Linked DNA regions of Homo sapiens: all the other regions are linked to region 1. Evidence: fine-mapped expression QTL. A gene starts in region 1. Each other region holds a variant in brackets. All regions are shown on one strand. Distances are from middle to middle. Region 1 holds the start of ACSS1 (acyl-CoA synthetase short chain family member 1). Region 2 has its middle 110 kb from the start of LINC02967. Region 3 overlaps ACSS1 (acyl-CoA synthetase short chain family member 1).

What was found. PIP is the estimated chance that this variant, and not a neighbour inherited with it, causes the effect.
Region 2: its variant is fine-mapped to the expression of ACSS1 in whole blood (INTERVAL, PIP above 0.99).
Region 3: its variant is fine-mapped to the expression of ACSS1 in whole blood (INTERVAL, PIP above 0.99).

The regions. Positions count from the first base shown.
Region 1 is chr20:25,054,868-25,061,880 of GRCh38, forward strand. ACSS1 (acyl-CoA synthetase short chain family member 1) reads right to left here and starts at 3,272. Exons shown (of 14, transcript NM_032501.4): 1 at 2,902-3,272. The coding sequence starts at 3,235. RefSeq lists enhancers at 2,368-2,497, 3,148-3,753 and silencers at 2,598-2,867, 2,998-3,527.
Region 2 is chr20:24,808,141-24,815,153 of GRCh38, forward strand. No RefSeq gene overlaps it. Among named protein-coding and RNA genes, the nearest start is that of LINC02967, 110 kb to the right of the region's middle. RefSeq lists an enhancer at 700-1,200. The variant A/C (reference allele first, on the strand shown) is at 2,847.
Region 3 is chr20:25,019,982-25,026,994 of GRCh38, forward strand. It overlaps ACSS1 (acyl-CoA synthetase short chain family member 1), which reads right to left. Exons shown (of 14, transcript NM_032501.4): 4 at 3,485-3,660; 5 at 2,959-3,111; 6 at 1,408-1,555; 7 at 29-166. Among named protein-coding and RNA genes, the nearest start is that of APMAP, 31 kb to the left of the region's middle. The variant G/T (reference allele first, on the strand shown) is at 3,454.

The sequences.
Region 1 (7,013 bases):
TCCGACCTTCTAAGAAACAAGGAGAGTGAAAGATAGCTAAATCTCCAAACAAGCTGGCATGATAAGGGAGCTCCTTCCACTTTCACCTTTACAACAAAAGTAGCTTTGAAATAACCAGTCCACTTTTTGTTCTCCATGTCTGCATCCTTCAGCCCCTTCTGTCTATAAAACCATCCTCCTCTGTTCAGCTCATCAAACATTCCTTCTGTTTTATGGAATGGGGTGTTTCCCAATTCTATAATCACGAATAAAGTGAAGTAAGGTCTTTAAACTAAATTTGTCCTAATTTTGCCCTTTGACATGAGTCATCCCCATCGGGCCCTGTCCAAAGTCCTGACTCACAGACTCTGCGAGGAATATAAAATTGTTGTTATCTTGTGTCACTAAACTTAGGGGTGGTTTGATGTACATCAATAGTAACTAGGACAGAATTCAGTTACATACGGCCCTTGTTTTACAGATGAGGAAACATGCAAAGTACAGTACAGGGAAAGCAAGAAATCAACCCGAGTCATGATTCTAAAGACACCTGGAGCCACGAAACTGTGTTGCGCCATCCACAGCCCATCATTTGCTTGCTGTTTGTTTAATAGGGCCAAGGCCAGGACACTAATCCCAATTCTGTTTTAGAAGTGCCTTCATCTGCCCTGGTTTGAGGCGTACAGGCCAGTGGTTCTCAAGCCCGAGTGTCCTCTGGAGCATCTGAAGGGCTCGTTATAAACACAGGTGTCAGGTCCCATCCCAGGGTTTCTGATTCCAGATGTCCAGGATGGGCTCCAGAATTTGTATTTCTCAAAAGTTCTCAGGTAATGCTGATGCTGCAGGTCTGAAGACCATGCGTTGAGAACCACTGGTATTCTTGAGGGGGTGAGGTGAAGCTTTCTTCAAGAGTGATATTCCTTTGGAACAAGCCATCTGACTTTATCACACACAGCTGACAGATCAGACCAAAGTGTTCTCATCCATCCCACGACTTTCTAGATGCTCCCAGAAGAGTCATGGCCTGGCCTGGCCCTTTTTCATACTGTCTTCTCTATGGTTTGCAGACACCGGCAAAGGAAAGAGATATTGCTGACCCATGAACAGGAGGGCACGCACATCCCAGGGGAGAAAGCTGCTGAAAAGCTGTTTTTCAAGTTAGTTTTCTGAAGCTCAATTTCTGGCTAACGTAGCCATAAAGGCCATATTATCAGAAGAAATAAGTGAAGGAAAAGGAGACAGAAGAATGCTTGCTGACCACACCCTGATCCTGACCGAGCGAGGTTCAGAAGGTCCTTGCTGTTGGCCCCAGGAGGTCCGCCCCACTGTCTTATCTGAGTGGGGCTGCAAGTGTGCACAGGCCAACTGTGAATGTTCCCCATGACCTTGGCCTCACAAGTCCAGAGCAGGTCACTTTCCACCTCTGTCCTTGGGCAAGCTGCTCTAGTCTCCTTCAAGGGCACATTGCCCCAACTCTGCAAACCAAAGGGTTTGGTTTTTTTCCCACTAGTTCAAGGGCACTTGCTGCTGACTCAATGTTAAAGAAAACACTTATCTAGTAAGTGACTCATTTTAATTAAACCAGCAAAGTAATATACAATTTCGGGGAGTGGGGGAGGTCCAAAGTTCCTTCCAATTTCTTTGAAAAATAACTGCAAGACACTATCTATAATTGTATGACTATTTCTGAAGTTATCTAAAATCGCTACTGCTTATGGGTCACCAGTAAGCGCTGGGTCTGCTGCACACCTTGCAGCACTCAGCCTAACCTCTGAGCATGACTGCCCCCATCCTCACAATGAGGAGACTGAGGGCTGGGGGGGCAGAACAACAAGGACAACTGAGGGAGGAGTTGGAGAAAATGGGGCCCTGGTGACCCTGCCATAAAGACCCGCAGGTCCTTTCTTAAACACTCCCAAATCCAGCAAGCTGGTTATGACCACCCTTCTGGTCTGCATCCCTCTGATCAACACCGTGTCTGCCAGCCCCTCCCCGCAGGCCCCACACCCAGGCCCACCCTGCATCCGGAGCCCACCTCGCACTTGGCACCCACCCTGCGTGGCCAGCCCTGCCTGCAGTTCAGGGCCTCCCCCTCGGTGCCCAGTCAGCGCCTTAGGTGGGGGCGAGGGTGCTGTGTACGACCCCCAGCCCCAAATCTTAGCAGAGCAGCAGGGCCTCTGCTCAGCAAGTTCCAAACAACTGACCACCAGTCAACTGTTTGGGGCCGACGTCAGACCCCGCGGGTCCAAAGCAGGCCCCAGGTCGCTGGGGTGCAGTTCTCTGAGGCCGAGAACGAGAACGGGGAGGCCGCCGTTACTTCCTTCCCGTCCACAGGCCCCAGGCCCCAGGCCCGCAGCGAAGAAATAACTGGTTCCAGCTGCCACGCCGAGTTTCCTCCTCCCCAGGTCGCCCGCCACAGCTCTGTTTGTTTACGTGGGCAGGGCTTGTCCCCAGGCTGATCCCCGGGCACCGCAGCCCGCAGTGACAACCGCCACCGCTTTGTTTTTCCCTCCACCCCGGTATGGGAACGGGAAAGTCCCGACTCCGGGGCGCTCGGGTGTAGCCCGCGGCTCCCCGCCGGCTCTTGCTCAGCGGCGCTATGCACCCGGTAACGCAACTCTGGAGTCCGCCGAGCGAGGAGCCGCGCCGAGCAAGGCCAGCAGCGGGGCGTCCCAAGCGGCCGCCGGGTCCCCGCGGGCGCCGGCCCGAGCTGGGCACGTGGATCTGGGGCCCGATGGGATGAGGGACGGGGTGACGTGGAGCCACTGCTTAGAGCGGGCGGGGCGGACGGAATACCGGAGGAGGGGCCCCTGCAGGGCTGCGATCCGCGCTGCCCGGGGACGGCTGCCGCTGGCGAGAGGCTCCGAGTCCCCTCGGGACCCAAGAGTTGGGGGCGTCCTGGGTCTCCCGAAGCCCACTCACCAGAGACATTTAACTGGCCTCCCAGGAACCAGCCGATCTTGCCAGTGCTGAAGTCGCAGTCCCAGACGGTGTGGTAGGGGGTGTCCCACACGAGAGTGTCCCGCGCCAGAGGCCCCCAGAAGGCGGCCGGCTCCCGGGCTGCCTGTGCACTCAGCGCGGGATACGAGCCTGGCTGTGCTGCTGCTGCTGCAACTGCGGGAGCGCTGCCCGAGGGTCCCGAGGCCGCCCTGCGCGGCGCGCTCACCCCGCACGGCGGCCGCGCGGGCTGCCCCGAGAGCCCTCGCAGGCTGCCCAGCAGCCTCCCGACGCCGCGGCCCAGGGTGCGCGCCGCCATCTAGGCAGGCTACCTGAGCTCTCTGTGCTCCCAGAGTGGGTGCCTCACGCCCGGGGCGCCCCGTGGAGTCTCCGCGGGCCCCGCCCCTGCTCCGCCCTTCCGCCACCATCCATTCCTCCAGGGCCCCCTCCCGGAGCCCGCCCGGGTCCCACCCCTTCTTCTGCTGCCCGGGAGAGGGGGGGCCGCTTAGGAAGAGGGGAGCAGCGTGGGGAAGGGGTGCAGGGGAGCGCGGGGCGGAGCAGGGTCCCAGGCCCTGGCCCAGGCGCTGCGCTCCGGTGAGTCTGCGGTCCCACCCGGATGTTCCTCGAGTCGGCCTGTTTTGGTTTCAGTTTGCACGCTCTCCTGCAAGCCCCGACAGCTTCTTCGAGCTGCCAGAGGCACGTGCGGCCCAGGACCCCAGGACGCAGGCTCAGGGCCTGGGGCGAGGGGACCCTCTGGGATGGGGAGGAGCCGGGAGGGAGCCGGCACCAACGTTAAGGGGGCTGGTGCACCCAAGCGCACTGGTGGGTCCCAAGACAATAGGTCGGTCAGTTCCGCATCTCAGAGGCTGAAGCCAAGGTTTTCATGCCTTTGTGCGCCCCTGAGAGTGAACCCCACCCCTGGAGTCTCAGCAGCACGCGAAAGGGGCTGGCGCCTTTCTAGGCTCCCGCCTAGAAGCCAGGAGGCTGCGCAAGCCTGAGTCCGTGTTCTGGGTCCCATGCTCCAGCCCCCCAGCTGCCGGCCTCCGTCCTGGCGGGGGTCACGTCCTGCTGGGGGTCGGTGGTGGGTGATATGGGGCGATGAGGACTTTCTCCAGTTGCTGCAGCATCTGTAGCCTGAGTTCAAACTCTGTGACCTTGAGCAAGTTCCTTAACTTCTCGGTGCCTCGTTTTCCTTTTGGGGAAGACGGAAGTAATGTCTCCCTGGGGGGCGGGGACGGCGGGGGTGGGCAGCTGCAGTAAGGAATACATTGGACAATGTCTGTCAAGCGTCTACCCTTGCGTGGCCCCATAGTAAGCTCAGTAGTGGGGATGATGTTTTTGCAGCTGTGGAGCCAGGAAGGACAGAAGGAAACGTATAAAACTGGTCTCCACCGAGTTCTTAAATATTCTGACACCCAAGAAGTAAATTCATAACAAACGGGTAAACACAGGGAAGAGAGATTTTGGAAAACTGGTTTATTGAGTTCTCTGTGATGGGAAAGTTTCTTTCCCTTGAGCTGTAGGGCTTGCAGAGGGGAGGAGCCTGCCATTGGAGGAGCCTCTGCGTGGGCTAGCCACCAGCCCCTGCTGGGGAATGCTGCTGTCTGCCAGAGAAGACAGGAGTGTACCTAGAGCTGGAGAATCAGTGACATCTACTAGCATAACACATGCCCTGCACAGTGCTAGCGCTTGACCTGCATTTTCTCCTTTATTTATTTATGATACTTTTTTAGAGATAGGGCCTGTAGCCCAGGCTGGAGTGCAATGGTTCCCATCACAGCTCACTACAGCCTGGAACTCCTGAGCTCAAGCGATCCTCCTGACTCGGCCTCCTGAGTATCTGGAACTACAAGCGTGTGCCACGGCACCCGACTAGTCTACTTAATTTGAAACTTATCTAGTGCTGTCCATTCCCACCAACTGTCAAACTCCAGGTGGAAAAAATGAGGAAACTGAGCCCAAATAAATAAAAGGACTTACTAAAGAGCATGCAGCTGGCTAAGGGAAGAGCAAGACTAACACCCAGTGCCCCCAGTGGGGAGCTCGTTGGCCTAAGTTCATTTGAATAGAATATTAAAGACACCCAGTACAGGGCACTGAGAGGCAGAGGTCAGTGAGTAGTAAAATTGTAAACTGAGAAAGCTCCTAACTGTGGCAGGGGGTCCCAAAGACGGCCACCAACTCTTCCTTCCCACGCCTGCACCGCCTGCACATGATGGTGTGCTGCTCTGTCCAGAGGAGGACCCTGGCTGGCTGGATTGCTTTGGCCAGTACAGCCTGGTGGGAGGGATGCTGTGACAGTTCCATGTGGAGGTCCTGAGAGACCCCGTAGCCCCAGCTTATCCTCCCATGGAACCCAGCTGCGAGCTGTGAGGAAGCGGGGCTGGCCTTCCAGAGGAAGGGACCCAGGGCGAGGATGAAGCTGTCCCATCCACAGCCAGGACCAACTCCCAGACAAGAATGACGCCAATGTGGAGGCTCCTGTCCCAGCCAAGGCAGCCTCATGAGTCACCCCAGATAACACCTGGGATGCAAAGGAACCTCCCAGTCCACTTACAGAATTGTAGAAGGAATAAATTTAAGCCACTAAATTTTGGGATGGTTTGTAACTCAGCAGTGGTAACTGATACAACAACTGAGGCTGAAAAATGCATGGTTCTTTCACTCACTGACTATTGCCTCTCAGTGCCCTGTACTGGGTGCCTTTCTTCTCTCTGCCTTCCAAGTGTTGAAGTGCCCAGGAGCTCAGCCCTCAAATCCCCCTTTCTCCCCTGCCCCCTAGGAAACAGCAGCCAGCTCTCTAGCCTCTCACTTTCATATTGACACCTCCCGCCTGGACCTTTCCTCCACATCTCAGTCCTGTATTCAAATGTCTCATTCACATCTGAAACATACCAAGTCCTGGGATTCTTCCCCACAACACGGATCTTCCATGTCAGTGAATGGAAATGGCATTTTCCTGTTGTTTGGGCTCATACCCTTGTCATCCTAGATTCCTCCCCCTCACACTCCACATGCAGCCTGTCAGCAAATCCTGTGACTCACCTTCAGAACACCTGCAGCACTAACCTCTTCCCCCATCACCATCCCCTCCTGCTACCATCCTAACCATACCTATCTCTTTTAGGATTATTCAGTAGGCTTCAAATTGCTTTCACCCTTGCCCCTGACAGCCTAACCAGCAGCCAGTGCAATTCCTTTAAAACAAGAGTCAGAGGAACTTGCTCTGGAGCTTGGAACAATCCAAAGGCTCCCCAGTCTCCTCAAAACAAAGACCACATCATTCCCTGGCCCACAGGCCATAGCCTCACTACTTAACGTGTGGTCCATGGGCCAGCAGCATCACTTGGATACTTTGTAGAAATGCAGAATGCCAGGCTCCATCTCAGACCTGCTGCCTCAGAATCTGCATCTTAAGCCCCAGGGGAGCTGCATGCACATTCACGTTAGAGAAGCGTTGCCCTCCCTGATCCAGTGTACCCTCTTCCTCTGCTCTCACTCATTGGGGCTCCAGCACATCAGCCTCCTCCTGTCCTTCCCATCACCCAGCAGGCTCCCACCTCAGGACTGCCACACGATGTCCCTTCTGCCTGGAATGCTCCACCCAGTTGTCCACAGAGACTCCCCCTCACCTCCTTCAGGTGTCTTCAAACATCCCTTCATCCAAGAGCCCTTTCTTCCCTGTCACCTACATAAAGTTATACCTCCGCCCTCATTCCCTAGTCTCAACCCCTGACTTGACTTTTCTCCATGGCTGTTACTTATTAGCTCTGTGTTTATCTTCCTAGTCCTCCTACCAGGAGGGAGCCCTGTGAGAGAAGAGACCAGCTATGCTGCTTGTGACTGGGCCTGGCACCAACAGCCACCCCATGGAGAGTGCACGGCAATGGCTCCTTCTTCCTACTACCTTCGTTTCTAAGGTCTTCTACAGTTGCAATGAGAAAAGTAGGTAGAACTAACTCTGTTTTAAAATAAATGCTACCTCGTTCCTTCTGGTTGGATAAGAAGAAGTGATCATTTCAGAACCAAACATGTCAGAACCAACCAGGTGGTGCAGAACTGCACTTCTTGCTGCCCGAGTTACCTAGAGGTGGCCT
Region 2 (7,013 bases), 250 kb before region 1:
GAGTGCAGTGGCATGATCTCCGGCCCACTGCAAGCTCTGCCTCCCAGGTTGACGCCATTCTCCTGCCTCTGCCTCCTGAGTAGCTGGGACTACAGGTGCCCGCCACAATGCCCGACTAATTTTTTGTATTTTTAGTAGAGACGGGGTTTCACTGTGTTAGCCAGGATGATCTCGATCTCCTGACCTCGTGATCCGCCCGCCTCGGCCTCCCAAAGTGCTGGGATTACAGGCGTGAGCCACCGCGCCCAGCTCACTCTGGTTTTAAAATGCAAGTTTTGCCATGAGTTGAAGGTAGATTAGCTCTTGTGGTTTCTTCTGCTGTGTAACAAACCTCCTAAACCTTAGGGGCTTGAAACAAATCACTCATTATCCTTCTCACAGACTTGCAGTTTGGACAAGGTATGGCCGCTCTGTGTTCCTTAAAATAGGAGTCCAGTGAGTTTGGAGACCATGAACAATTAATTCTGAGGCTGGCTGGTCTCAGTGGGCAGTGTGCTGGTTGTGGGGGCTGCAGGCTGTGAGATCGCATGGGAGACATGGGCTGTGTGATCATGTGAGGACTGTGGGCTGTGAGATCACATGGGGGCTACGGGCTGTGAGATCACGTGGGGGCTGCGGGTTGTGAGATCCTGTGGGGGCTGCTGGCTGTGAGATCGCATGGGGACTGTGGGCTGTGAGATCGCGTGGGGGCCGTGGGCTGTGAGATCATGTGGGGGCTGTGGGCTGTGTGATCATGTGGGGGCTGCGGGCTGTGAGATCACGTGAGGGCTGCAGGGCACAGTGCAAGGCAAGCTCCTCAGGAGGCCCAGGGCAGGGCTCTGGGGACAGGGTGGGGTGAGGGTCACTAAGGTTGAGGGAGTACACTGATACACCTGGGTTGACATGGCTGTCACAGCCCTGCTGATGAGAGCTGAGAGGAAAATGGAAGGGGGAGAGATGAGGGGCAGAGCTTTGGCAAATTAGACAAGCTGGGCCTGCACACACTTCGTGGGGCCAGGAGGACGTGGCCCTACTTCTGATCTGCAGGGCTGCAGGGCAATGGGCCTCTAGGGGCAAAGCCAAGACTTGGGCACCCCATAAAAGAGGCAGGAGCATCCTGGGAAACGTTGAGGGTGTCAGGGATCATGTTCATGGTGTCACAGGAGCTACCCAGGACTCGGGACCCTTTAGCTGGGGTACAGAAGGGCTTTCACCTCGGGCGGGCACTGAGGTCAGCAGAAACATGAGATGTCGGGGTGAACGAGCACTGTGCTTCCAGCTGAGCCTCCGGTGCTAGGCTCTCTGATACCCAAACCCTCCCTGGACAGCGGCCTGCAGCGCGGGGAGATGGGCGGTGCTGTTCCCATCTCATAGCAGAGGAATGGAGACCAGCACAGGGGGAGAACGTGTCCAGGGCTCCACAGCAGTAGGTGCTGGAGTCCTAAGAGGAAGTGCTGAGCAGTATCACGATTCTCTGGCCTCTCAGATGCTATTCTCATCCCTGCCTCATTCCCAGAACTAGACTCCCTGGGGTCACGTCTCACTGGTGATGCTAAAATCCTAATTCCTCCCCGTCCCTGCACCTGCGACCTTCAGTGTCAATGGCCCTCCCTGGAGCTGTGGGGCGAGATCAGCTTCTTGCGAGGACGCTGAGCGAACATGGTCTCGCTCCTGTGATCTCGGCCCAAGCTGCCTTCAGGCCCTGGTGTGAAGAGACATCACACACACAGAAGGTGACTGATCTGTGGGCTCCAGAAGCAACAAGCTCACGAAGGTCAGGAAAGGCCAGAGAGCGGCTGCAGGTGAAAGGAGGCATGAATGCAGCGTGGGACTCCAAACCTGGACCCTGGCTATGAAGGACATGACTGAGATGACTGGCCACACTCAAGGGGGCTGAGGACGGGCCGATTAAAGTGCTGAAAAGACCGGGCGCAATGGCTCACTCCTATAATCCCAACACTTTGGGAGGCCGAGGCGGGCAGATCACGAGGTCAGGAGATCAAGACCATACTGGCTAACATGGTGGAACCCCGTCTCTACTAAAAATACAAAAATTAGCTGGGTGTGGTGGTGGGTACCTGTGATCCCAGCTACGCGGGAGGTTGAGGCACGAGAATTGCTTGAACCCAGGTGGCGGAGGTTGCAGTGAGCTGAGATCGTGCCACTGCACTCCAGCCTGGGTAACAGAGCAAGATTCTGTCTCAAAAAAAAAAGAGCTGAAAAACTGACCGTTGGGTGCTATGCCCAATGACTGGGTGACAAGATCAAACCCCAGCACCACACAGTATACCCATGGAACAAACCTGCACATCCACCCCCTGAATCTAAAGTAAAAGTTGAAATTTTAAAAACAGGAAAAAAGTTTTTTAAGGGAAAAATAAATAAATAAATAAAGTGTGTGTGCTAATTCCTCAATTTCGATAGCCACATTGTGCTCCCAGAGGAGTGTTTTTCTGTAGGGATTGCGTGAATCACACACTAAGGCATTGGGAGTGATGGAGCGTTATGTTAGCAATTTAATTTTAAATGGTTCTGGGGAAAGTTCTCCATACTGTTCTTGCAATCTTCTTTTTAAGTTTGAGATTGTTTCAAAATTAAAAGTAAAAAAAAAAAAAAAATGTATTGTCCATGGAGAGAAAGCCAGCTTTCCCTAAAGTGTGAACATAGAGACGCCCCACCCTTTCCTAGGACAACCATGGCTGCTGCTGCTAACTGAGCCAGCTGAGTTCCAGGCGCAGTGCAGGCATCTGCTCCAGGCATGACTTGGTCATCCTATGGGAGCTGGGGCAGGCACCAGACACACTTGCCTGAACACAGGAAATGGACTGGGAAGTGCAGGCCAAGGGATCTCCAAGCCCAGCTTCGGG[A/C]ATCTGTCTCATTCCTGCTCCTCTGGGCTGAGGCTTTCTGGAGGCTGAATCTAGGCAGAACCCATAGGTGGGCAAATGTGATCTCAAGGCCCCACTGTGACTTGTGACCAGAGGAGCCTCTCCCTCAATATTATAGCAAGATTCTCAGGGACTCTGGATTGGGCTATGGCGGAACCAATCCGTGTGGCTGCTAGTGCAGAGAGGCACTCTGTTTGGGCATGCAGGGTCACATGCTTAGGGGAACCGCCCTACCCAGCCCACATGGCTTGAACTCTGAACCTGGTGGGTTGGTTAAGCCAACAAGGGGAAGGAGTCAGTGGAAGTGGGGTTGGGAAAGGGGGCCTCCATGTGTCTGCACCTGCCTGACACTACCTGCCCCATACCACACCCTCCTGACACTGCCCACCCCTACCCCACCCTCCTGACACTGCCTACCCAATACCCCACCCTCCTGTCACTGTCTACCCAATACCCCACCCTCCTGACACTGTCTACCCAATACCCCACCCTCCTGACACTGTCTGCCCCATACCCCACCTTCCTGACACTGTCTGCCCCATACCCCACCCTCCTGACACTGCCTGCCCCATACCCCACCCTCCTGACACTGCCTACCCCATACCCCACCCTCCTGACACTGTCCCATGCCTGCACCCACCTGACACTGTCTGCTTCATACCCCACCCTCCTGACACTGTCTACCCCATAACCTACCCTCCTGACACTGTCTGCTTCACATCCCACCCTCCTGACGCTGCCTGCCCCATATTCCACCCTCCTGATGCTGCCTGTGCCATACCCCACCCCCCTGACGCTGCCTACCCAATACCCCACCCTCCTGACAATGCCTACCCCATAACCTACCCTCCTGACACTGTCTACCCCATAACCCACCCCCCTGACACTGTCTGTCCCATACCCCACCCCCCTGACACTGTCTACCCCATACCCCACCCCCCTGACACCGTCTACCCCATACCCCACCCTACTGACATTGTCTGACCTATTCCCCACCCTCCTGACACTGTCTACCCCATGCCCCACCCTCCTGACATTGTCTGACCCATACCCCACCCTCCTGACACTGTCTACCCCATACCCCACCCTCCTGACATTGTCTGACCCATACCCAACCCTCCTGACACTGTCTGTCCCATGCCTGCCCCCACCTGACACTGTCTACCTCATACCCCACCCTCCTGACACTGTCTGCCCTATAACCCACCCTCTTGATGCTGCCTGCCCCATATTCCACCCTCCTGATGCTGCCTGCCCCATACCCCAGGCTGGGGTGCTCAAACCTTCTCCTTCCTAGAACCCCCAGTGCACAAGACTCGGGAGGTGGGTGGTGCTCCCTGCCTTTTGCCCCCAGGCTGATTTCTCAAGAAGGCTCATTAGAGGGTGATTGGGAGGAATACTTGAGCCAGAGCTATTTGGGAGGGGTCCCTGCCCTCTTAGGTGCCCACCTCCCCACCCAGCAGCTCCCATGCCACCCCACCCTCTTGCCTGGGTCACAGTGACCTTTGTCTGGGGCAGAAATCAAGCCTCCACCCTCCACCACCGGGCAGAGCATCAGGGATGAGTGCCGACCCAGCCAGCCCGGATCTCAGCTTTCCGAGGGAAGGGCAGCTCTCAGCAAGGCTTCCTCCACTCCCCTCTCTGCTGCGATGAGTTTTGTTTTACAAAGTGTACAAACAAATAACTCCGGTATTTGTTTGGTAGACTTAGGTTTTTGTGTTTGTGTTTTGCTTAAAGTGGGACATGTCTATCACTCAGCATACCCAAACCACCTAGTTGTAAGACAAGATTTACATTTGTTCCTTAAGTAGTCAGCTCCTGTCAGTGGATGCAGCATGAAAACGTGACAAGTCATGGACTTCAACAGTCGGAAACATCTCTAAACGGTGTGTCCAGACATCACTGTAATATGTGGACTGTCTACATCAGAACCACTGGCTTACTTACTAAAAATGCAAATTCTAGGCTTGCCCATGGACTCAAAAGGTGTGGAACAGAATCCAAGAATCTCCTTTTAGAGTGGCAAGGGACTAGGGGGACAGGGGCTTCTGACCAAGAATGAGAAACCATGACGAAGGCAGTAATGTTCACAGGAGATGTGTGTGTGTGTGTGCGAGCGTGTGTGTGCGTGTGTGTGCGTGCACGTGTGTGCACGCACGCGTGTGCGTGCGCATGTGTGTGCGTGTGTGTGCGCGTCTGCGTGTGGGTGTGGGTGTGCGCGTGCGTGCCGTGTGCGCATGTGTCTGCGTGTGTGTGTGTGCGCGCATGTGTGTGTGTGCGTGCATGTGTGTGCATGTGTTTCCGTGTGTGTGCGTGTGCATGCATGTGCGTGTGCGTGTGTGCGCATGTGTGTGCGTGTGTGTGCATGTGCGTGTGTGTGCGTGTGTGCGTGTGTGTGCACGTGTGCACACGTGTGCGTGTGTGTTTCTGTGTATGAGACAGAGAGACAGAGACAGAGGTGAGGTGGGTCCCTGAAAATCTGATTTCAAAGAGGTCAGCGGGTGCTGGTGTTCTGGTGCCACACACTGCACTTTTATCTCTTTGATCCACAACAAGAAAGCAGAAATGAAAACTTCCTTCTCTTCTTTGTTAAAATAGGCTGTCTTCTCAGCCCAGCAGAAGAGCCCTCAGCCATACCAGGGCTAGCCAGCCTTCCAGAGGAGCCTGTCCCCTGCTCTCCTGGGGACCCCAGCACCGGCTGAAGCCTCCAGAGTGACTCATGGCTCTATGTCCATCACTGCAGCTCTGGAGGAGTAACCACGGCACACATACCCTTCTATGGGACACCTGCAAATACTTTTCAATAAGCTCGAGTCCATTTCATCATCAACACAAACAGAAAGACCCTCCACTAGGTCTCTCACCCGCTTGACATAAATTTGTTTTTCATATTCCTCATGGAAAATAGAGCTACGCTTGATCAGGAAGGTGAAAATGGAATGGGTGAGGGTATTTAAATTCTCTCTTCTCTCTCTTCCCTCCTTGCTATGTGTACTTGGAATAAGTGCACACGCTCAGCTTTAAGAGCTGTTTGGGACTTGGGAACCAGCTTGCCTGGACATCAGAGGCCACAAAGTCCGTCCCTGTCTCTTTGCAGTCTGTGCAGTTGCCCCGGTTGGTGGAGCCATGGTGGCTGTGCCCTGTGGGTTGTGAATGATTGCAGGGGGGCTGCGGATCAATAAATGCTGCAAGAATGACCCATAAATCAAAGAGCAATATGCCTCCCACTCATAAATGGGGCCATTTTTCAAAAAGACGTCGATGGTGTGGTGGTCAGTAATGCACACTCAGGCTGAAGGGTGGCTGCATCCCTGGGAGCTTCAGGTCTCTGTTTTCCAGAAATTCAAGACACTCACCTTGTGTCTGTGACACTTTCTTAATGTTTAAAATCAGTCCTCCAGAGGTAACATGATAAGGACCGAGAACAAACCAGGGGTTGCTGGTGAACACCAGGGAAGGACTGACAGCATGAGGCATAGAGTTTAGATGTTCAGCCCTGGGAGGGAGAAAGAGGCATGGGGGAGCTCAAGCCTACGGCCCACCTCCTCCTCTCCTCCTAGTGGAGTCCAGGCTGGCTGCTGAGCACCTCACACCCAGGAAGATTATTGCCTCTTTGTGTCCAGATTAACTGTCCCCAAAAGTGACCAGGTTCTCTGATTCACCCCCACCACCTTCACCCTGGCAGACAGGAGCCTGGGCCCTTGGCCGTGTGAACTGAGACCAGCCGACACCCTGCTGGACTCCAGCTCCTCGGCCCTGGTTCAGCCCACCCAAGACCCATAGTCCTGCCTGTCTCTGCCCAGTGACGGTTTAACTCCTACCTAGTCCATACCATGTTCCCAAAACGTTTCTCAGTGAGAAGGATACAAGTAGCCTTCCTTCAGGCCTCCACGTGCTTCCAGTAGATGCCTTGTGATGCTCTCTCCTGGGCCCTACTCTCCTTCTCCTTCCTCCACTCAGGCAGGTGGTTCTCCTGGTGCCTCCAGAGGTGAGCACACAGCAGGGCAGAGAGCCAGCGTCACCATGGACACCTCTTGGCTCTTGTTTCCCAAAATCCCAAACCAAGAGAAGAGGGAAGAGGCAGAAAGTTCAGGCAGGTGCAGAACGTGGGGGCTTCCTGCGGACTAAATAGACCACCCAGTGGGCCTG
Region 3 (7,013 bases), 35 kb before region 1:
CTCTCCTGCTGCAGGGCAGGCCGCTCACCTGACCCCAGGGTCCGCAGGGAGGAGCGATCATACTTCTTCACCCAGGCATCACCGTATTTCAGCAACAGCCGGACAGCCGTTGGGGCGCCATAGAACTGATTGATCTTCAACCTCTCTACTGTCTCCCAGTACCGACCTACAGAAAGGCCGAAATTCACTGTCAGCAGGAGAGCTGACATGGTTTACTTTAAACTCAGAGATCAGCCAAGACTTCCTGAGTGCTGGGCATGTGCAGACGCGCATATGTCCATATGAAAGGGATCCCCCCAACCCCCCACCCCCGCCAGTGAAAGATGGAAAGAAGCCCCATGGGACAGGTCCCCAATGGCCGCTCTCCTCCAAGCACTCCCCAGATCCATGGGCGGCACATTCAGGAACAGTCTTCACCAGGCTTAGGGTGATGGCCTAGTTCAAGGTGATACTACGTGGATTTAATAACCCATGGAGCATTAACACAGAGCTTTCACTCGATCACACTCACATGGGCTCTAAAGTGGTGACTGGTGCTTCCCCTGGTGACAGTACAGCTGCCACTGCGTGTGTCCCAGGGAGCAGGGCCATGTGCCCGGCATGCACACCCCTGGTTCCTGTAAACCCACTACCCACACCATCCCCTCCACATGGAACACTGAGCTTCTAAGGGCTGAAGTGGTGGCCTGAGACAGCACCTGGGCCATGGCCCTTAATCCCTGGTCTTGCCCCTACAACTTCTTCCTTGAGCACACCCAGCCCCCAAAGGCAGGGATGGAGCACTGGGAGGTGATAACACAGTCCATGCACAGTTGTCAGTGCCATGGAACACTGGAGCAGCAGCCTTTGGGCAGAGCCACCATGATCTGCTTACATTAAAGAAAATATTTGAAGACACTGTGCTGTGTGGGAGGACGATGCCCAAGGGAGCCAGTCATCACCTTGTCTTCAAAGTGATCTCAATTTAATGGAGATGGTTCTAGGCCATGCCTAACATGGTTTGAGGGACAGCCCTGAAGGCTCAGGGGCAGGGCTGGGGACACAGAAGTGGCGGGCAGCTGGCCCTGGCTTTGAGAAAGGGCTGGATCTGGGCAAGCAGCCTAGAGGTGAGAAGGATGCCAAAGCGATGGCCTGAGGCCGGCAGTTTAAGTCAGAGGGCAGGAGTGCAGGAGCAGGGGCCTTGAGATGTCCTCCAGCACCAAGTCAGACTCCCTGCTGCTGCCTGTCAGATCTTTCTGAAGACCTGGGGCCTGGCCCCACCGGGCATTTCGACAGCAGGACCTGGAGAGCCACACCCTCACCAGAACCCAGGCGTCCCCCTTCCATGAACCTCTCCACAAGCCTCGAGCCTCAGGCTCTCTCCCCTGACACCAGCATGGGGTCCCAAACAGGGTTCACCATCCTTACCAGCATTGGGATAAACTGGGGTGCTCTCAAAAAGGACGCTGGTGGCACCATTGCAGAGAGGCCCATACACCACGTAGCTGTGTCCTGTAATCCAACCGATGTCGGCCACACAGCCAAAGATGTCACCTGGCTGGTGGTCAAACACAAGCTGCAGAGACAGGAAAGGAGCATCAGGAGCTTGTCCCCCCACTCCACCATGTTCACACCAGGTCACTAGGAAATAGGCATGCATAGGCTGCAGTCCATAGCTGTGAGAGGCAGCTGGCTCCTCAAATGGCCTCCAGCAGCAGGACAGGTGGGCACACTGCAGAGTCCGTCTAGTTGTACGTTTAACACATGGACACCTTTTTGCATTACCTTATGCCACGATTTTTTAAACCCCTTAAGAACTACAAAAAATAAAAGCAAAAAAGGCCAAGAATGGCATCAAGCATCATCAGCTTCGAGGAGCATGAGAGGACAGACATCCGAATCCCCTTTATTCTTCCACAGCAACTGAGTGGAGCCTGATCCCATCTCAGGATCTAACTGCCCACGTGCAGGAAACACAGAGGCAGAGGGACAACAGGCACAACCCAGACCAAAGGACACCAGAGAAAAATGGCTGGATGTGACTATGGCCAAGTGTAAGGAAATGGGGGAGCATAGGCTTAAAAAGACTTAAAACACATATCAACAATATTTTAGGCCGGACACGGTGGCTCACACCTGTAATTCCAGCACTTGGAGAGGCCAAGGCGGGCAGATCACTTGAGGTCAGAAGTTCAAGACCAGCCTGACCAACATGGCAAAACCCTGTCTCTACTAAAAATACAAAAAAAAATTAGCAGGGTGTGGTGGCAGGTGCCTGTAATCCCAGCTACTCAGAAAGCTGAGACAGGAGAGTCACTTGAACCCAGGAGGCAAAGGTTGCAGTGATCTGAGATCACACCACTGCACTCTAACCTGGACAACAGAGTGAGACTCCATGAAAAAACAAAACAAAACAAAACAAAACAAAACAAAAGAAAAAACAATATTTTAATTGGCAACAGTAAGCTACAGTGCCCACGGATGCTCATATGGGTCACAAAACTATCAAAATAAAAACAGGGCAGGCGCACAAGACACATCAAGACATGCTGGACGGGGCTGTGGCCATATGGGCCTGGAAGGGGCTTCTGAGAAACCGGTGGCCTTCCACTTCTTGATCAAAGTGGCATTTGCCTTATAATAATTCATTAAGCCATGCATTTAATTTGGGTGGTTTTCTCTATCTGTTCTAAAAAGAGTTTTTAAAAATCTTTGGGCGAATGGCCCTTAGTGTCCTGCTGCCGCGTTACATGATCAGATTATCTGGGAGTTTCCAGACAGTGCAGTGGGGGCTTGAGGCAGCCAGGGCCCTGAGGAGCTGTAGGGTGGGAGGACTCGAGGGGGCCCTGCCCCGAATAGGCCAGGAAGAAACACTGACCTCTCACACCTACAGGCCTCGCTCTGCAGCAGGAGGACTTCCAGCCCTGCCCCTGCCTGGATCCCTGCCAAGGGCCCAGCACCGCCCGCACAGGCCTGTACCTTGTGAGTCAGGGCGGCATAGAGCAGGTAGCCTGCCTGGGTATGGACGATGCCCTTGGGCATTCCGGTGCTCCCTGAGGTGTACAGCATGAAGAGCATGTCCTCACTGCCCATGCTCTCTGGGGCGCAAACAGGGTCCTCCTTGGCCATTTCCTGGCAGGGAGAAGAAACAAACAGCCCACCGAGGGCACTCAGCCTCTCTGAGAGCAGCACTCCCCCTCCGCAGCAGGACTCCACACACAGGATTCAGAATTCACCTGCTCTGACCTGTCCAAGTTCAATTCCAAATGTGGAAAGGACACAAAACAAAAGCGTGGGTGCAAGCATTTGTGTTACAGTAAGTGTTCCAACATGCTTGTCGTATAGGAGTTTTATCTTCCCAGTCAGGACTCAAGCTCACCAAATACCACAGAGGAACCCTGGGCACCTCTAGGGAACCCAAATTGAGAACCACAACCCGAGAAGCCTCAGAGCCAGCTAACTTGATATGACCTC[G/T]CCTCAAACTGTGCAAAGCGAGGTAACCCACCTGCTCCAGCGGGACGTCCAGATCCCCCATGTGGACCTTGTTGTCTGTCCTGTGAGCCACCAGGACATGCTGCACGGTGGGGCAGTGCTTCACAGCCTCATCCACTATTTTCTTCAGCTCCACCACGCGCCCACCCCGGAGTCCTTGGTTGAAGGTGATAACCACCTTGCACTTGGCTAACAGAGACAACACAGACATTTCTGATCAGTCTCCTCCCGACTTTAACCCTCATAGCTCTGACTCACATAGGACATCCAGGCCTAGGAGTGTGAGAAACTCAGTCCAATCTTGAGTAAAAGACTCAATGGAAAAAGTGAGGGGCTGCCTGCTCTCCAGCCTTTGTGTGCCATGAAGAAGCACCAGGCCTTTGTCCAGTTCTGAGGCTGAGGGGAAGGAACCAGAGATAAATTACTTTGAAGCTCAGCTCTTCCTCCTTGAGTCAGCAGCATAAAGACAATTTCCCAACCAGACTTCCACCTTTCTCTCCTGTCTGCCCAGGAGCAAACCCCAGGAAAGAGGCCATCATGCCACCTGCAGCAATCAAGGTGACAGAGAAATACCGAGAGGCAGAGAACAAGAAAGCTGGACAACCAGAGGCCAAGCCCAAAGGTGTCCCATGTGGCCAGGCCCTGTCTAGAGTGACTTGTGTGGGCCAAGAGCCTTCACTGTCCAGAGATCAGAAACCACACCCCAGTGGATGACTGGGAGCTGCCTGCCCACCTTACCTTCAGGAGAAGGCCCTCCTGATCCCACACCTGCTCTTCAATGACCAATGTTGCTCAGCCAGGCCCAGGGGGAAGCCAGGAGGACCCTAGCTTCCATGGCTAACCTAGGGGTAGGCCCAGAGCAGAGAAGAGGGGTGCACGCACAGTGGGCCTCAAGACCCCAGGAAAAGGAGGTGTCCTCCACGCTGTGCCCCAGTGCGGGATGACCCAGAGGGATCACAGCTGCGGGGGGTTACTACACAGCCCCTCAGGAAGAGCCTGGGACAAATGCCCAGCTGTGACCCTGACTGGCAGGGCCTCACCCACATCCCTTGGGCCTTTCAGTCATTCTGCACCAAAGGCCTCTTGCAGAGCTATGGGCAGAAGTGCTGGGGAACCCTCGACCAATGGCTCTCCATAATTGGGGTACAAATCCTGCAACTCCCTACCCTTTGCATGGAGCCATTTGAGGCATGTGTGCCACATTCCCGTCCAGAGCCACCACTGCCCTACCACACTTCCAAGACAGACTCTGGCCTCAATGTCCCCTCTGGGAGAGTCCTACCTAAATAAATCTGAAAGCACTTTTGCACAACAGGCCCACCCTTTCTCCTCCTAAGAGCCCTGGAGATGTCATGGCCATGAGGGTTCCCTGAGAATTTTCCAGCACACACAGCACCATCCGGGGGTCAGAGAGATACCCTAGACCTGCCCAGATGCAGCCACCCCTGCATCTGGCACCAAGAGCCGTGGCTACACACACTCTTTGGCCTTCAAGCCTCAGCGATAGCTCACCTGGGGAAACCAAGTCAGTTGGGTGGAGCCTATCAGAGACTTTCCAGACCTACATCCCCAAGCAGGGGTTGGTCCAGGTAAGCCCCCTATGGGCGAGGAAGGGAGATGGACCAGCAGGAAGGAATGAACCTTTCTCAAGGGGACGGGAGACAAAGAAAGCTCATGGGGGTCAGAAGCTCTCACGATACAATGACCCCAGCCCATGCAACATGCTGAAATCACACTACACAGCAGGCAGTTCCTTCCCCACCTCCCAAGGCGCACACCTCACTCCTGACTCGCACCTGTCCAGGGCCTCCCTGCCCAGTAGGCTCTCCAGGAGGTCCTCTAGGAAGTACCCAGGAGCTTCTGAGCACCATGAGCATGTCTGGCCCACTGGCGCCCTCCAAGGCTGGGCCACAGCATGGGTGCTGGCAGGAACCACATGCCACTCTGGGAGGATTCAATTTTCTCTCCCTGGTTTTGAGCAGGTACCAGCATCTGCGTTCATTTTCTGCTGCTTCCATAACAAATGACCACAAACTTAGTGGCTCAGAACACTCATTTTTAGCTCAGAGTTCTGTCGTCTGGACAGGCTTGGTGGGGTTCTCTGTTAGAGTCTCACAAGGCCAAAGTCAAGGACAGGGCTGGCTCCTATGTGGTGGCTCTGGGGGAGTATCCACCTCCAGGCCATTTCAGTGGTTGGCAGAACTCAGTTCCACGCGACTGAGGGATTAAGGTCGCCTTTTCCTTGCTGACTGTCAGCCAGGGGTCATTCTCAGCGACTACAGCCACCACCTGCCCTGGTTCGTGGCCCTGTTTATCTTCAAAGCCAGCAACGGCGGGTAAAGTTGCTTTGAATCTCTCTGACCTCCCCTTCTGCTTCACTTCCTCTGCCTCTAGTTGGAGCAAGTTCTGTGCATTAAGGATGTGGGATTAGATGGAGCCCACCTGGATATCCTATTGCCTTATTCATATGTGCAAAGTCTTTCACCATGCAAGTGACATAGCACAGCTTCTGGGGGATTACAGTGTGGCCATCTGAGTGGGTCATTATTCTACCCCCACAGTCTCTCTCAAAGCCATTCTCCTGACCTCTACCCTCCCCTGCAACACTCTCCACTCCTCAAGCAGCCTAAAGCAAGAGGGAAGACAAATGAAGAGGGATGGTCCAACCCTGGAAGCCAGGCCAGGGGACTGAACTCTGGAACTGCACCTGCTGACTAAGGTGGCTGCCCAGACATGTGAGAGCCTAGCGGTCAGACTCACAATATACACCCACCTCCCAGTGGCCAACTGAAGATGGCTGCACATTCTTTCACCTGCTCTTATAGAGAAGCAGGATCCAGGTCTCCTCCCCTTGAATCTAGAATGGCCACGGACTGGTTCGGCCAATCTAGTAAGGCAAGAGTGATGCCAGGCCTGTGCCAGCCTGGACTGTAGGACACTGGCAGTTGCTATTTCCTTCCTCTTGGAGCCATGTGCTGCCATGTGACAAGCCTGACTGCTAAGGCTGCAAGGCTATGAGGAAGCCCAAGTCAGCCATGTGAAGAGGCCACGTGGAGAGAAAGACAGGCCCACCAGTCCCCAACCCTTCAAGTCAACCTGACTAATGTCCCAGATGTCATGGAGCAGAAAACAGCCATTCCCCTGTCCCCATCTGATTCCTGTCCCACAGACCCATGAAATAGAATACTAAAATTTATTGTTTTCAGTTTTATTAAACACTAAGTTTTGGAGTAGTTTGTGACACAGCAATAGAAAACCAAAACAGCCCCTCATTGACCCAACAGGACACAGATACCCATCTCAACAGAATCTTGTCCCCAGGAACCTGGTACCTGCAGAGCTGCACAAAAAGGCTGAAGGATATCAGGGCAGAGTCCTCTTCAGGACAGAGTCATGGCCCCTGCCCTCCCATGCTTGGTTGTTTAGGAATTCTGAGGTTCTGGGAGCTGCCCCAGCATCCAGCTACTAAATCCCCACATGATGAAGTCACCAAGAGTCAACTGCTATTGCTTGTTTCAAACAATCTCAACAGAAGCACTGGG